Linked DNA regions of Homo sapiens. The protein of the gene in region 1 purifies or fractionates together with the protein of each later gene. This does not show direct contact. Each region holds a gene or a part of one and is shown on either strand. Other genes may lie near its edges.

What was found.
Region 2: the proteins of RCVRN (region 1) and HIKESHI purify together in Homo sapiens (affinity purification with mass spectrometry; 2 studies listed by BioGRID and IntAct, with this or other methods). This does not show direct contact.

The regions. Positions count from the first base shown.
Region 1 is NC_000017.11:9,902,270-9,909,584, reverse strand, and holds the start of RCVRN (recoverin), read left to right. Parts: upstream 1-4,313; 5' UTR 4,314-4,404; coding exon 4,405-4,785; intron 4,786-7,315. UniProt on the Homo sapiens protein: Acts as a calcium sensor and regulates phototransduction of cone and rod photoreceptor cells. Modulates light sensitivity of cone photoreceptor in dark and dim conditions.
Region 2 is NC_000011.10:86,298,187-86,305,251, reverse strand, and holds the start of HIKESHI (protein Hikeshi), read right to left. Parts: upstream 3,013-7,065; 5' UTR 2,804-3,012; coding exon 2,774-2,803; intron 1,896-2,773; exon of another isoform or gene 1,722-1,895; intron 1-1,721. UniProt on the Homo sapiens protein: Acts as a specific nuclear import carrier for HSP70 proteins following heat-shock stress: acts by mediating the nucleoporin-dependent translocation of ATP-bound HSP70 proteins into the nucleus.

The DNA.
Region 1 (7,315 bases):
TGTCTGAGGCCAGCCTGGCTGGAGTGGAGGGAGTGAGGAGGGAAGAGAAGATGAGGACGCTGGGCAACCCTCTTTCCTGGAGGGCTGTCACATTCTTTGAACGACCCGTCTCAGCGTTTCCCCCAGGTTCTTGGGATTGGTGGTGATTTTACCTCTGATGACTTAGCAGAGAGACAAAAGGCATCCGCCCCCTTTCATCCGTTCTTGGAGGTGCCAGAGGCCACTTGCGAGAAATGGTGGGATGAGGGCCAGTGCTGCCTGCTGCAGGCTTTTGGCTTGGACTGGGAGAAGTGGGCAGCCATAGTGCATGACCTGATTTCATGGCCATGGGGCTCACTGCGGGGCTGTAAGGGGACAAGAGCAGAAGCAGGAAGAGCTGTTAGGAGGCAGCGGTGATGCTGCCTGCACAAGGCAGGTGCAAGGGAGGCGGGAAGAACGGTCTGGTTCTGGATGTACCTTGAAGGTAGAGTCAAGATGATTTCTTGATAGATTGGAGTGGGTTGTGACCGAAAGAGAAACACTGAGAATGATGCCAAGGACCTCAATCCAAGTCATCAAAAGGATGGATTGTCATTTTCTGCAATGGGGACAGCTGTGGGAGGAGGGTCCTTCCCCATTCTCTGTCTCCCCCGCCACCTTCTCCATACCCCCTTTTCCCTCTCAATGCGGACTTCTCTGCAGGTGCTGGCTCCAGGCCAGAGGGCAGGAGGGTCGTCTTGGCCTTCAGCTCATAGCAGGCAAGGTCGAGCAATGGGGAAGGGGTGGCGTCTGGGTCCCAGCTAATGGCCAAGATGGAGCTCCTGCTTGAGGGGACAGGGCCAGCTTCTGGGAAGCATCTTTCAGTCCAGCGAGGAGAGCGAGACCAAAACTGGGATCCTCTGCCTGGAGATGAAGCCTTCTCCTCTAGAGCAGTCTTTGGGTTTTGGGAGAGTTTATGGCCCCAGCTCAGACTTAACAAATCGACTCACAATACATCATCTCCAACAACTTGTTTGGCTAAGGAGCATAAGCTCTCCCTCTGATAGAAGATGTTTATGCAGGTTTTCAAACAAACCTCCAGGTCATGACCCCTCACTCTCAGCATCAACACAGCTGCCTGCGGTCCCCTGGGGCCCCTCCTGGGCACAGCAACCTGGAGAATGTGGACTGTACCAGGCTGCTTCCGACCTGGGTCCAGCTCCTTCCTCCTTGTGCCTGGAGAGGACAGCAAAGACTGGAGGGCTCTGGCTGCCTTCTGCCTCGCCCAGGGCCTCTTTCATTGACATGGTAACCCCACCTCCTCACCTACTTGTCCTCTAGGCTCAGGCCTCCTGTGACGTAGACAAAGGAAGCCTAAATGGACAGGCTGGCAGACCTGGACTTTCCTTCCTTCTGGCATTGCCATTTAGCAACCATGTGACCCCAGGCTGGTGACATGCCTTTAGGAGGCCCCACTTCTCACTTGTAACACTGGCTTCGCCTCATCTGCTGCAGGCTTGATGTGGACAGGGGTGCGATCCAGGAGGCACTTCCAGTCGCCCCCTACTAGTGGCTCAGAGCAAGGGGCCGAGGCCTCTGACCTCACTCTCCCTCCATCCCCAGGGCTGCAAGGAAGCTCTGGAATGAATGCGATTCCAGGGTGTGGCTTGGGCTCCCGTTTGTTTTCAAGGCTAGTGACTGTCCTGTTTCTAACTGCTCTTGAGAATAAATGCACGCTACAGGATGGTGAAAGCCTAGGAGAGGAAGGACTCCTATTCAGAAGTAATATTCTCACTGGGCGCAGTGGCTCATGCCTGTAATCCCAGCACTTGGGGAGGCCAAAGCAGGCAGATCATGAGGTCAGGGGATCGAGACCGGCCTGACCAACAAGGTGAAATCCCATCTCTGCTAAAAACACAAAAATTAGCTGGGCATGGTGGTGAGCGCCTGTAATCCCAGCTACTTGGGAGGCTGAGGCAGGAAAATCGCTTGAACCTGGGAGGCAGAGGTTGCAGTGAGCCGAGATCGTGCCATTGCACTCCAGCCTGGGCGCAGAATGAGGCTCTGTCTTAAAAAAAAAAAAACAAAAAAAACAAACAAACAAAAAAAAAAAAACTCACAAAGTGATGGAAAAAAATTAGAAAGTTCACACACACACCCCAATATGCAGGTTTCCTGAGAAATCTCTGAAACTGTACTGGGCAGAGCGGCTGGGAGGGATGAGTCTGCCCCTTGGTGCCTGAACCTCTCGGTCCTTCCAGAGTGACATGAGGTGGGCCTGGCAGGTGGCTTTCTCCCAGCAGCAGGGACCTACCTTCTGCTGCCACTAGCCTGTTAGTAAGTAGGCTAAAATCCCCACTTTACACTTTGAGATGCAAGGCGGGCGGATCACCTGAGGTCAGGAGTTTACGAGACCAGCCTGACCAATATGGTGAAACCTCGACTCTACTAAAAATACCAAAAAAAAATTAGCTGGGCGTGGTGGCAGACACCTGTAGTCCCAGCTTCTCAGGGGACTGAGACAGGAGAATTGCTTGAAACCAGGAGGCGGAGGTTGCAGTGAGCCAAGATCGTGCCCAGCCTAAGTGACAGAGGGAGACTCCGTCTAAAAAAAAACCAGTTTACCTGCCTGGAGACCGTGGGGTTTATTCTTCATCATTCTCACCCCAGGGCAAAAAGAGACAACTCTCCATCCACGGTGGCAAGGCTGGGGTTCTGAGTGTGTCCCCTCGAGCACTGCGCTCCGCTAAGGAAAGTGCACGCCCACCCTCCCTTCCTTCTGGGTGACAAGAATCCAGGTGTGCAGCGTCCTCACTAGGTTGCTTCCTCGTGCTTGATACTCCCCGCTGAGCTGCACAGACGCGAAGCCTGCCTTTGCACAGCTCCGTCTCTGACCACTCAGTTATTTATCCATTCACTCAGCAAACACGTTTTCTTGCCTGCTCACTCCAAGTCCACTGCAGACGGACACCCTGCAGCCTGCCATGGACCCACAGATAGATTGTGTTTGGCCCACACCATGTTTTGTTTTGTTTTTGTTTTTGTTTTTGTTTTGTTTTTTTGAGATGGAGTCTCACACTTGTCACCCAGGCTGGAGTGCAATGGTGCAATCTCGGCTCACTGCAACCTCTGCCTCCCGGGTTCAAGCGATTCTCCAGCCTCAGCCTCCCAAGTAGCTGGGATTACAGTCACCTGCCACCATGCCCGGCTAATTTTTTGTATTTTTAGTAGAGACAGGGTTTCACCATGTTGGCCAGGCTGGTCTCGAACTCCTAACCTTGTAATCTCCCCACTCAGTCTCCCAAAGTGCTGGGATTACAGACGTGAGCCACCATTAAAATTTTGAATTAATTGCCAAAGTTGAAAAGTGTGGAAATTGCAAGAAAAATTCTGATTTTTGGATTTCTCTTGAATAATTTAAAAAAACCCAAAAATCTCACCATCCCATGTGACCACGTTCTCTGGCAGCCCCTTCCCGAGGTGACACAGGCCTGGCTGCCCCCTGCTGGTCCCTTCAGGCAGTTCACCTTCACTCCCTGTGACTGATGGACAATAACAAAACGAGTGTTTAGCATTAGCCATGTGCCAGTTTCTAAGTGTGTCAGACATATTGACTCACATCAGCCTCACAATGACAGTGTGGTAGATGCTATGATGCCCATTTATTCAAGAAAGACTTGCTGGGGGCCCAAGCCTATCAGGTTCTGGCAATGGAAATGCATCCGGGAACAACACAGACAAAATCCCATCCTTCACGGAGCTTTCATTCCGGTGAGGGGACATGCAGCGTGCCGATGATGGTGGGGGTTGTGCTATTATAGATAGAGGGTCAGTATAGGCCTGGCTGAGCAGGTGACATTTAAGCAGAGACATGACTGCAGTGAAGGTTTAGAAGAGTGTCCCAGGTGGAAAGAGGTGAAGAAACAAGCCTGGGGCCACACAGCTAGTTAAGTAGCCAAGCTGGGACTTGAACCCATGCTGGCCCCAGAGTCTGTGCTCCTAACCATTGCATTCTAGGGCTTGATATGAGATGCCAGCCCCGCCCCGAGATGCTCAGAGTTAGTGAGGAAGAGAAACAGGGAACATGGCTGCTGTTAGAGGGCTGGGGCTGGGGGTGCCGGAGGCCCCAGCTCTGAGGGTTCCAACCTCCTGTCCTGTTCTAGTATCGTCCCGGGAGGCCGAGATGAATTGCCTGCCTGCCCTGGGCTCTTTATTTTAATCTCACTAGGGTTCTGGGAGCACCCCCCCCCACCGCTCCCGCCCTCCACAAAGCTCCTGGGCCCCTCCTCCCTTCAAGGATTGCGAAGAACTGGTCGCAAATCCTCCTAAGCCACCAGCATCTCGGTCTTCAGCTCACACCAGCCTTGAGCCCAGCCTGCGGCCAGGGGACCACGCACGTCCCACCCACCCAGCGACTCCCCAGCCGCTGCCCACTCTTCCTCACTCATGGGGAACAGCAAAAGTGGGGCCCTGTCCAAGGAGATCCTGGAGGAGCTGCAGCTGAACACCAAGTTCTCGGAGGAGGAGCTGTGCTCCTGGTACCAGTCCTTCCTGAAGGACTGTCCCACCGGCCGCATCACCCAGCAGCAGTTCCAGAGCATCTACGCCAAGTTCTTCCCCGACACCGACCCCAAGGCCTACGCCCAGCATGTGTTCCGCAGCTTCGATTCCAACCTCGACGGCACCCTGGACTTCAAGGAGTACGTCATCGCCCTGCACATGACCACCGCGGGCAAGACCAACCAGAAGCTGGAGTGGGCCTTCTCCCTCTACGACGTGGACGGTAACGGGACCATCAGCAAGAATGAAGTGCTGGAGATCGTCATGGTCAGTCTCCCCTCTCCCCTTCTGGCTGGGCGGTGCCGGGGTCGCTCCGGGCTGGGGGTCCCCTGCTGCAGCTGCTGCAGAGGGAGTGGATCTGTGGGTGGAGCGGGGGATGCGGGCCACTGGCTCTGAGAGCGTGGTGCTCCGAGATGCTGATATTGATAGAGGGGTGGGCACTTGCCCACAGCTTCGTTGTCTTCCCGGAGCAGAATCTGAGTGTTTCCTAATACAGCCATGTTATGCTTGGCTTCACGATGTTTGGGTCAACAACGGACGATATAGACCACTGTGGTCCCATAAGATTGTAATGGAGCTGAAAAATTCCTACTGCCTAGTGACGTCATAGCACAGTTACTTTATTTTTCAAATGCATTTAGTGTAGCCTAAGTGTATCCGTAAAGTCTGTAGTTGTGTACGGTAATGTCCTAGTTCTTCACATTCACTCACTACTCACTCACTGACTCACCCAGAGCAACTCCCAGTCCTGCAAGCTCCACTCATGGTGAGTGCCCTAGACAGGTCTACCATTTTGTATCTTGGTTTTTTATTTTTTATTTTTTTGAGATGGAGTCTCACTCTGTAGCCCAGAGCTGGAGTGCAATAGTGCGATCTTGGCTCACTGCAACCTCTGCCTCCCGAGTTCAAGCAATTCTCCTGTCTCAGCCTCCCGAGTAGCTGGGATTACAGGTGTGCACCACTATGCCTAGCTAATTTTTGTATTTTTAGTAGAGACGGGGTTTCACCATGTTGGTCAGGCTGGTCTCAAACTCCCGACCTCCAGCGATCCGCCAGCCTCAGCCTCCCAAAGTGCTGGGATTTACAGGCATGAGCCACTGTGCCCGGCCCATTTTTTATCTTTATACTGTATTTTTACTGCATGATTTCTATGTTTAGCTATGTTTAGATGCACAAATACTTACCATCGTGTGACAACTGCCTGCAACATTCAGGACAGTCACGTGCTGCACAGGTTTGTAGCCTAGGAGCAAAAGGCTGGACCATGGAGCTCAGGGATGTAGTCGGCTCTACCATCTGTGTTCGTGCAAGGATGCTCTATGATGTTCCCACATAGAAGTTGCCTTAAGATGTGTTTCTCGGAATGTATTCCTGTCTCTGAGCGACACGTGACTATATTTACATTTTTTCTTTCTCTCCATCCTTTGTTTCTTCCTTCCTTTATTAAAATGTCCTTTGAAATTTTCAGCAGTACACATTCAAGTTGAATCACTGTTCATTCTAAACACACAATATGCTTCTAATATAAAGTAGAAAGAGGTCAAAGTTGGGGGCATGAACTCTGAGTTCTAGTCCTCATGTTCTCCCCAGCGCGGGGCGGATCATGGCACCACGCATGAGCCCCCGCTTCCCACGCGCGGCGTGGCTCCCCGGCTCCTGACAGTTTCCCTGTGAGGCGCACAGGCTTCCATATGGTTCCCAACACGCCTTCTCCCCTGTCCATACTGTCCTCCTGTCAGATCCTTTGTTGTGAAAGTAATGGCAAAAACCATAATTACTTTTCCACTAACCTCGTAGGTGTCTTGAAAATGGTTTATCTGATATAAAAGTAACTCATGAAATTTAGAAACCTAGGCAAAAGAGACTAACAATTGCCTCTAATTCCAACATCCAGGGAAAACTTTTCTTAGTATATCAGTATATACCTTTTCAGTCTTTTACCTATATAATTTTAAATAATGTTAAAGCTATGACATATTCACATACGATTTTTTATCATACATTTTTCAGTTACTCTTTTATCATGAGTGCTTTCCATATCATTACATATTCTTCCAAAACACTTTTTTTTTTTCTTCAGACAGAGTTTTGCTCTTGTCGCCCAGGCTGGAGTGCAGTGGCGTGATCTCAGCTCACTGCAACCTCCCCCTCCTGGGTTTGAGCAATTCTCCTGCCTCAGCCTCACGAGTAGCTGGGATTACAGGCACCTGCCCAGCTAATTTTTGTATTTTAGTAGAGACGGGGTTTCACCATGTTGGCCAGGCTGGTCTCGAACTCCTGACCTCAGGTGATCTGCCCGCCTCGGCCTCCCAAAGTGCTGGGATTACAGGCGTGAGCTTCCGCACCCAACCTCTTCCAAAACTCTTTTAATAGCTGCTTGGAATTCTGGCTTATGGAAATGTGGAAATTATTGAACATTCCTATGTTTTTGGACATTAGGTTGTTTCCATTTCTTTCCTATTATACCAGTTCTAATTTCCTTCATTTGATTTTTTTTTAATTTATTCTTTTTCAGTCCCCCTGCCCCTGCCACTTACCTTATTCTTCTAATTCCATTCCTGTTAGTAGAGACTATTGTTTAGATGTTAATAACTTTGTGTGCATTGGCAATCATGCTTTCATTTGCATGATGACAAATGCACAAAAATCTTCCACAGTTATTAGGAGAAATCATAAATAAAACAGCAGAGCATGCAGCTTGTGGTCCATGGGCTTATCCTCAATGCTCAGCTCGGGCCTCCCATTCTGGCAGGCATGTGTCTCTCTCATTGTTATCTTGGCACAGCCTGCAGAGAAA
Region 2 (7,065 bases), on another chromosome or scaffold:
GAGGCAGTCAGCTGGCTTGAGCTCAGGAGTTCAAGACCAGCCAGGGCAACATGGCAAAATCCGATCTCTACAAAAACTACAAAAATTAGCCAGGGGTGGTGGCATGCGCCTTTGGTCCCAGCTACTCGGGAGGCTAAGACCAGATAATCACTTGAACCCAGGATGTCAAGGCTGCAGCAAGCCGAGGTCCCGCCACTGCACTACAGCCTGGATGACAGAGCATGACCCTGTCTCAAAAATAAATAAAAGAATCTCAGGTAATTAAAACAGGTAAGCAATCCAGAAGTAATTAGGCAATCCTCCTTATTCACAAATCCTGTATCTGAATTCACCTACTCACTAAAACTCACTTGTAATCCCAAATCAATGCTTGCTGCATTTCTGCAGTCATTCATGGACATACTCATATGAACAGTAGTAAAAAATGTGAGTTGTAGGCCTGGCACAGTGGCTCATGCCTGTAATCCCAGCACTTTGGGAGGCCAAGGCGGGTTGATCACCTGAGGTCAGGAGTTCCAGATCAGCCTGGCCAACATGGCGAAACGTAGTATCTACTAAAAATATAAAAATTAGCTGGGCATGGGGGCACATGCCTGTAGTCTCAGCTACTCAGGAGGCTGAGGCATGAGAATTGCTTGAACCTGGAGGCGGAGGTTGCGATGAGCAGAGATCACACCATTGCACTCCAGCCTGGCTGACAGAGTAAGACTCCGTCTCAAAAAAAAAAAAAAAAAAAAAAGTGAGTTGTGCAACTCACACACTGGCAGCTGAGGTAGAACATGCCATCTTGTTTCAGTCCTCGTAATATGAAAAAGTGTCCTTTTCACAGTCTCATCTATTTAAAGCATTTTTGTGATTTTTGTTGGTGATCGTGCTGTTTAAAATGACCAAGTTCAAGTGCTGGCTAGTCTTCCTAAGTGCAAGAAGGCTATGACATGCCTTACAGAGAAAATATGTGTGTTAGGTAAGTTTTCCCTCTATAATATCCTATCTACCGATACAAATAAACTTAGGAAAAATATACTGCTATGTAATTTCAACTATCTATTAGTTATAAAGTAGTATCAACTGGCTGCCCTAAATTAAGTCTCAAGATACAAAGGCAGTGTTCCTAAAGTCAAATTCTGATTCCCTCTTCAGAAGTATTCTGACCCACTTTAAAATCCTCCAGCTTTAGTATAAAGAATAAAACAAAGGAATAACACAAACCAAATGGCCTGTATTAGTATTAAATTCAATTTCACCAGTCTTTGGCATGCATATAACCTAAAAAGCATGGGAAATTATTATTTATGAGTCTTGAAATAACCACCAGGCAAAATAAATATTTCTTAAGTGTCAACTTTGTATAGGTACTGAACAGTCTGCAAATCTGTATCATCACACTCTAATTTTTGACATTAAGAAAAGGTGTATCTCTTTAAGAAAAAAAATCTTAAGAAATAAAAACTGGGTTCATAAGTTTAGATAAGTAGATTTTTCTTATAACAGAGTCGTGTAGTTAAGTTTTGAGATGCCACTAGGTCTATTTGTCCTTCACTTTGATGTGTCCTAATACTCCATAATTAAAGGACCAAGTATCCCCAATATATAGAGGCAGGTATTACCATAACTAAATTTCCTTCCAAATTAGTTGACAACGTGAGAGATACATGGATTCCAAATAGGCTTTTTATTCTTTAAGAAACACAATTTTAATGTCATTCATTAATAACACTCACTCGTCTGAGTCACACAATCATTCCAGGTTTGTCCTTTTTCCCTATTAAGAGCAGGGCAAAATTATCTCACCAGGATTATGAATTACCACCATCACCACAGGGGTCTCCCAGTCATTCAAGAGACAAACTTTATGAGGCTAGTCATCTCCAACTTATCTTTCTGGCTTCTTAGAACTGTATATGTACAGAATACAATACATTATCAAAACTTGATGGGAAAAAAAGACAATTCAGCAAAGGGACTGCAACATTTTAAAAAGCCAGGAGAAAAAAGAAGGAAAAATACTTCTAGGGGAAAGGAATCAGGCCTGAAAATTGATGTCTGTGTGGTTTCTAAGGAAACAAACAAGATTCACCTTCCAGATTATTCCTAAAGAATTCCAGGTGCTGTTCTCATTTACTCTAACAATTTGGCAAGGTAAGTTATCTATTTTGACCCATAAGGAAACACACTACTCGCATCCTTCTCTGGTTATCTCAGATACGGCTCACACGTTAAGTTTCAGCCAACTTCCAATTAAATTAAGCTTATTTTTACTCGGGTTCTTCCAAAGGGACCCAAAAGATATACATTCCCTGAGCACCTTAATCTTTGAAAAACAGTTTGCTATAGACCAAATTCAATCCCAAATTCACCTCTACCTCAAGTTAATAAAGAAGGTATTTATACTGGCGATTGAACTTAGTTCTGTAACTGCAAAATGTCAAAGATAAAGACCATCTCACGAGTTATGAGGATTAAGTTCAAAGTGCCAAATAAGCGCCACACATAAGGCTGAGTGACCAAAGGCGTGCATTGCACTTAGCCCAGTACTTGGTACAAAATGCACACTTAATAAATGCCAACTTATACTGTGACTACTATTCGAAAGAATCTGAATAGAGCTGGGCAAAGGAGAGCACCCAGCTTCCCACGCTCCATCCTCACATACCCACCCAAAATATAATAAGTGGGCTTCCCCGCATCCCTAGCGCCTGCGCACCCTCCCTGCCGTAGGGCTTCGCCCTCGGTATCCTGACCCCTTCCTGATATCACCCGGTCCCATCCTCACCAGCCTCCCCGCCACCAAGCAGCCAAACATGGCGACGGCAGCTCCGTTCAGCCGGCAGTGACCTGAAGCCGGCGACTAGGAGTCCTGGGGCTACTGCCCTAGTCGAGACTAAGAACCTTCCAGAATTTGCGGGAGGGTGTCTGCCCCTCCACTACATAGTGACTGGGCCAGCGGCAAGAATGCCTCTGCCCCCGCGAACTCTGACCTTCTCTTCCTAAGCAGCCCACTGCTCAGGCAACAAGTACTTCCGGGGCTTACACCCGGTTTTCCCCACTAAGGAAGAAAGGCGGGCCAGCGCCAGTACAAGACTACAAGTCCCAGAACAAGTCCCAGAGGGCACCGCGCCAGTTTCCGGGAAGGTAAGCCTGGAGGCTTTGCACACTGGGATCGGTAGTCCGGGTGTTTTATAGCCACAAAATCTGTGGATCCTTCATTTCCATGTACAATCCTGGGAAGAGATGCTTCTAACGTTTCTGTGACATCTGAGAGATTAACGGTGCACTTTTACAATAATCACGTCACTAGATCTTTACAAAAACCCTATGAGGTAAGTATTATAATCCAAATTTTATAGGAGTGATCAGCCTCAAATCTTTACACAGCAGTAAATGTTGGAGGCTGAATTCAAGTCCTAATCCAAATCCGGGTTTCTTTCTGCTACACAGTGTCTCAGAAGTATTAATCTTTAACCAATTGTTTTGTACTTGTCTACAATTTATAGTAGTTCTTTCCAGCTTCACTTAGTTCTCCCATTCATTTGCTGTACAATTGTGGACGAGTTGTAGATGTCTTTGTGCTTCAGTGCCCCTCCTTTGCAAAAGACAAATAATGAGCCTATTGCCTAGGGTTGCTGTGAGGATTAAATGAGCTAATATGTATAAAACACTTAAAACAGTGCTTGGCTGTGCTTAATTAGTGGGAGTTTTATTGTAAAAATGTCTATTTTTTTTCTATGTGGATCTGCAGAAAAGTTTCATAGGAAATACAAAACAATAGCCAAAAAAAAAAAAAAAAATACTGGCATTAAGTACCGATTGCCACCAATACTTATTCTCCCTTTCACAGCTCCAATTCCTTTTCTTCTTGAATAGGATAGTAAAGGGTCTCTGTCCAATTTGAAATATCTGAGCTTGGCCACCAGCCGTAAAGCAGGTCTGTCTTCCCAGTTCTCAGTTTATATATGGGGGATCAGTGTTTGGAACAGTCCTCTGGCCTCCACTGTGGATCCCTAAACTGATCACCTATCTTATCACCGATACTCCTTTGAGATAGCTGTGCCAAAGGTGAAGAGGTAGGAAAGGATCTACCAATGTTTCCAACTTACTATCTAAAAAGTCCTAGAACCTTCAGAATAAAAAGGCCATTCATATGAAGACCACTTCATAAATTAAGGCACCCACACTACCTGGGTTCAGAGCCCATCTCTGCCATTTATTAGTTACATAATCTCAGGCAAGTTAACCTAACACTCCCATACCTCCTTTTCCCCATCTTTAAAATGAAGTAATAGTAGTATCTACCTCATAAAGTTGTTTTGAGGGTTCTTACACGTAAAGTACTCAATAGTGGCCAGAATGTAGCTTACTCAATAAATGTTAATATTTAGCATTATTGCCTTTCCTAACTAATTTTCCATGTCTTCTTCATACCCACCTTGTGCACTAGCCATACTTTTGAATTCTCTGAGCAACTCCTACTTTTAAATTTGTATGTGCTTATGCAACTTGTTTTATCTCCCTGTAATATTCACTTGGTTATTTCTTACACATCCTCTCACTTTTCTTCACTAACCTTTCTATGACCCACCTGATAGTCATTTCTTCTCCTACCCAGCAATCTTATATTTAGTGGATTGAGAACTAGCTAGCTTAGAATTTTTTTTATAAATTACAGATGATGTTTATTAATTGTCTCAATCTCTGTTATGTGAGATATGAGCTTTTTCTCCATTTTGCTGGTCAACTGTCTTAGTTATAGATTGTACAAAGAGTTAGAGGCAGTGAGTACAGTATCATATCTCTAGAGTAGCCAGTATTCCAGCTACCAAACTATATTATTTGTACATACAGTAGTTCTTTGTAACTTCTGCGGGCAGAACTAGATACAGTGTGAGGAAGTGAAAAAATGTTTCAGGGAAAAAAATCTTTCCAATAATCAGAGCTCTCTGAAATAAGAATAGATAGTCATGGAATAGAGTGAATGCTCCTATTCACATTGATATTGTAACCAATGCTGAAATCCACTTACATTGTTGAGGAGACTTACGGAAAATTGGGGAAATTGGCTGAAAACCTCAGAGGTACTCCCCCCCATCTCAAACTATATGATTCTATGGAGTAAGAACCAGTTATAGTTTAATTGTGGCCAGGGTATCAGGGATTCTGAATCCTGGTGTTAGCTCTTCATTAATTAACCTAATGATGAGATCATTTATTTTATCATTTTGGCCATTATGTTTCTTCCAATTCTAGGTTGAATTCTGACTTGAAGAGAGCAAAAAAATATTTTTTCTCTTCTCTGAAAAATTTTTCTTTACAAAACAAGGAGAACAACAAATAGACACACAAACTCTGTCTTCCCTGAACTGGGAGATATCTGTAACCCCAAGTCACAACAGATATCAATGGAAAGTAGATAAAAGAAAGGCAAATGACTTAGCAGAGGCGTGGAAGATCAAACTCAGGTACTACAGAGAAAGATAAATATCAGAGAAGCTCAGGAACTGGAGATATCAGGGGCCACAGAATGCAAGGGTAAGACAGGTAGATTGCTTAAAATCAGTGTTAAGATGTTTATATCTGTTCCTCATCCACACCTTGCAAAAGGCCACTGGTATGAAATCTCTGTGGAAAAAAATTAAATCAGAGGCACCCTGGGTACTAGGAAACCATATACTGAAAAAAAGTGGTTGTAAATTAAGGCCACCATGTACAGATTCGGTCCTAAATAAGGACACCCAAATGAGAGAGGAGTCCTTGGTCACCAAGTCAAACATATCCCAGACTATGTCCACCCAAAGAGGGGTGGCTTTTTCTGAAGCATCCACGTGAGAGTGCTTTGTACTATATCATCCATGCAGAGATAGCTCTTTTTTACATCCCTCATCCATAGGGGAAAAGGGTCACGTTTTAAGAATTGATGGAAAAATCCAACACTCTTTTCATGATAAAAACAGTCAACAAACTAGGAATAGAAGAGAACTTCCTCAACCTGATGAAGAACATCTACAAAAACTCCGCAGCTAACCTCATACTTAATGGTGAAAGATCAGGAACAAGACAAAGGTGTCTTTTATAGCTGCTTGTACTCAACATTGCACTGGAAGTTCCAGCCAAGGCAATTAGGCAAGATAAATAAAACTGGAAATGAAAAAGTAAAACAATCTCTAGTCACAGATGACATGATCTTTTTATTTTTTATTTTTTTTGAGACTGAGACAGAGTCTCACTCTGTTGCCCAGTCTGGAGTGCAGTGGCGATCTCAGCTCACTGCAATCTCCACCTCCCAGGGTCAAGCGATTCTCCTGCCTTAGCCTCCCAAGTAGCTGGAACTACAGGCATGCACCACCATGCCTGGCTAATTTTTGTATTTTTTGGTAGAGATGGGGTTTCACCATGTTGGCAAGGCTGGTCTCGAACTCCTGACCTCAGGTGATCCACCCAACTCATCCTCCCAAAGTGCTAGGGTTACAGGTGTCAGCCAACACGCCTGGCCAACATGATCTTGTATATAGAAAATCCTAAGGGATCCACTAAAAACCTATTAGAACTAATAAACAATTTCAGCAAGATTGAAGGATACAAGGTCAATATACAAAAATAAATTGTGTTGCTATACACTTGCAGTGAACAATCCAAAAATGAAATTAAGAAGATAATTTCATTTAAAATTCTCATTTAACAAAAGAAGTATAAAGTATATACTCTGAAAACTACAAAAAATTGTTGTAAGAAATTGATCTGGCTTGGACATTTGTCTCCTCCAAATCTCATGCTGAAATGTGAACTTAATTGTTGGAGGTTGGCCTAGTGGGAGGTGTTTGGAGCATGGGGGCAGATCCCTCGTGAATGGCTTGGTGCTATCCTTGCAGTAATGAGTTCTCACTGTATTATTTCATTCAAGAGCTGATTGTTTAAAAAAATAAAAAATAAAGAGCCTGGCATCTCCCTTGCTCCCTCTCGCCATGTGATATGCCTGCTCCCCCTTCCGCTTCCGTCATGATTGTAAGCTTCCTGAGGCCCTTACCAGAAGCTGGACATATATTGCTGCCATGCTGGTACAGCCTGCAGAAC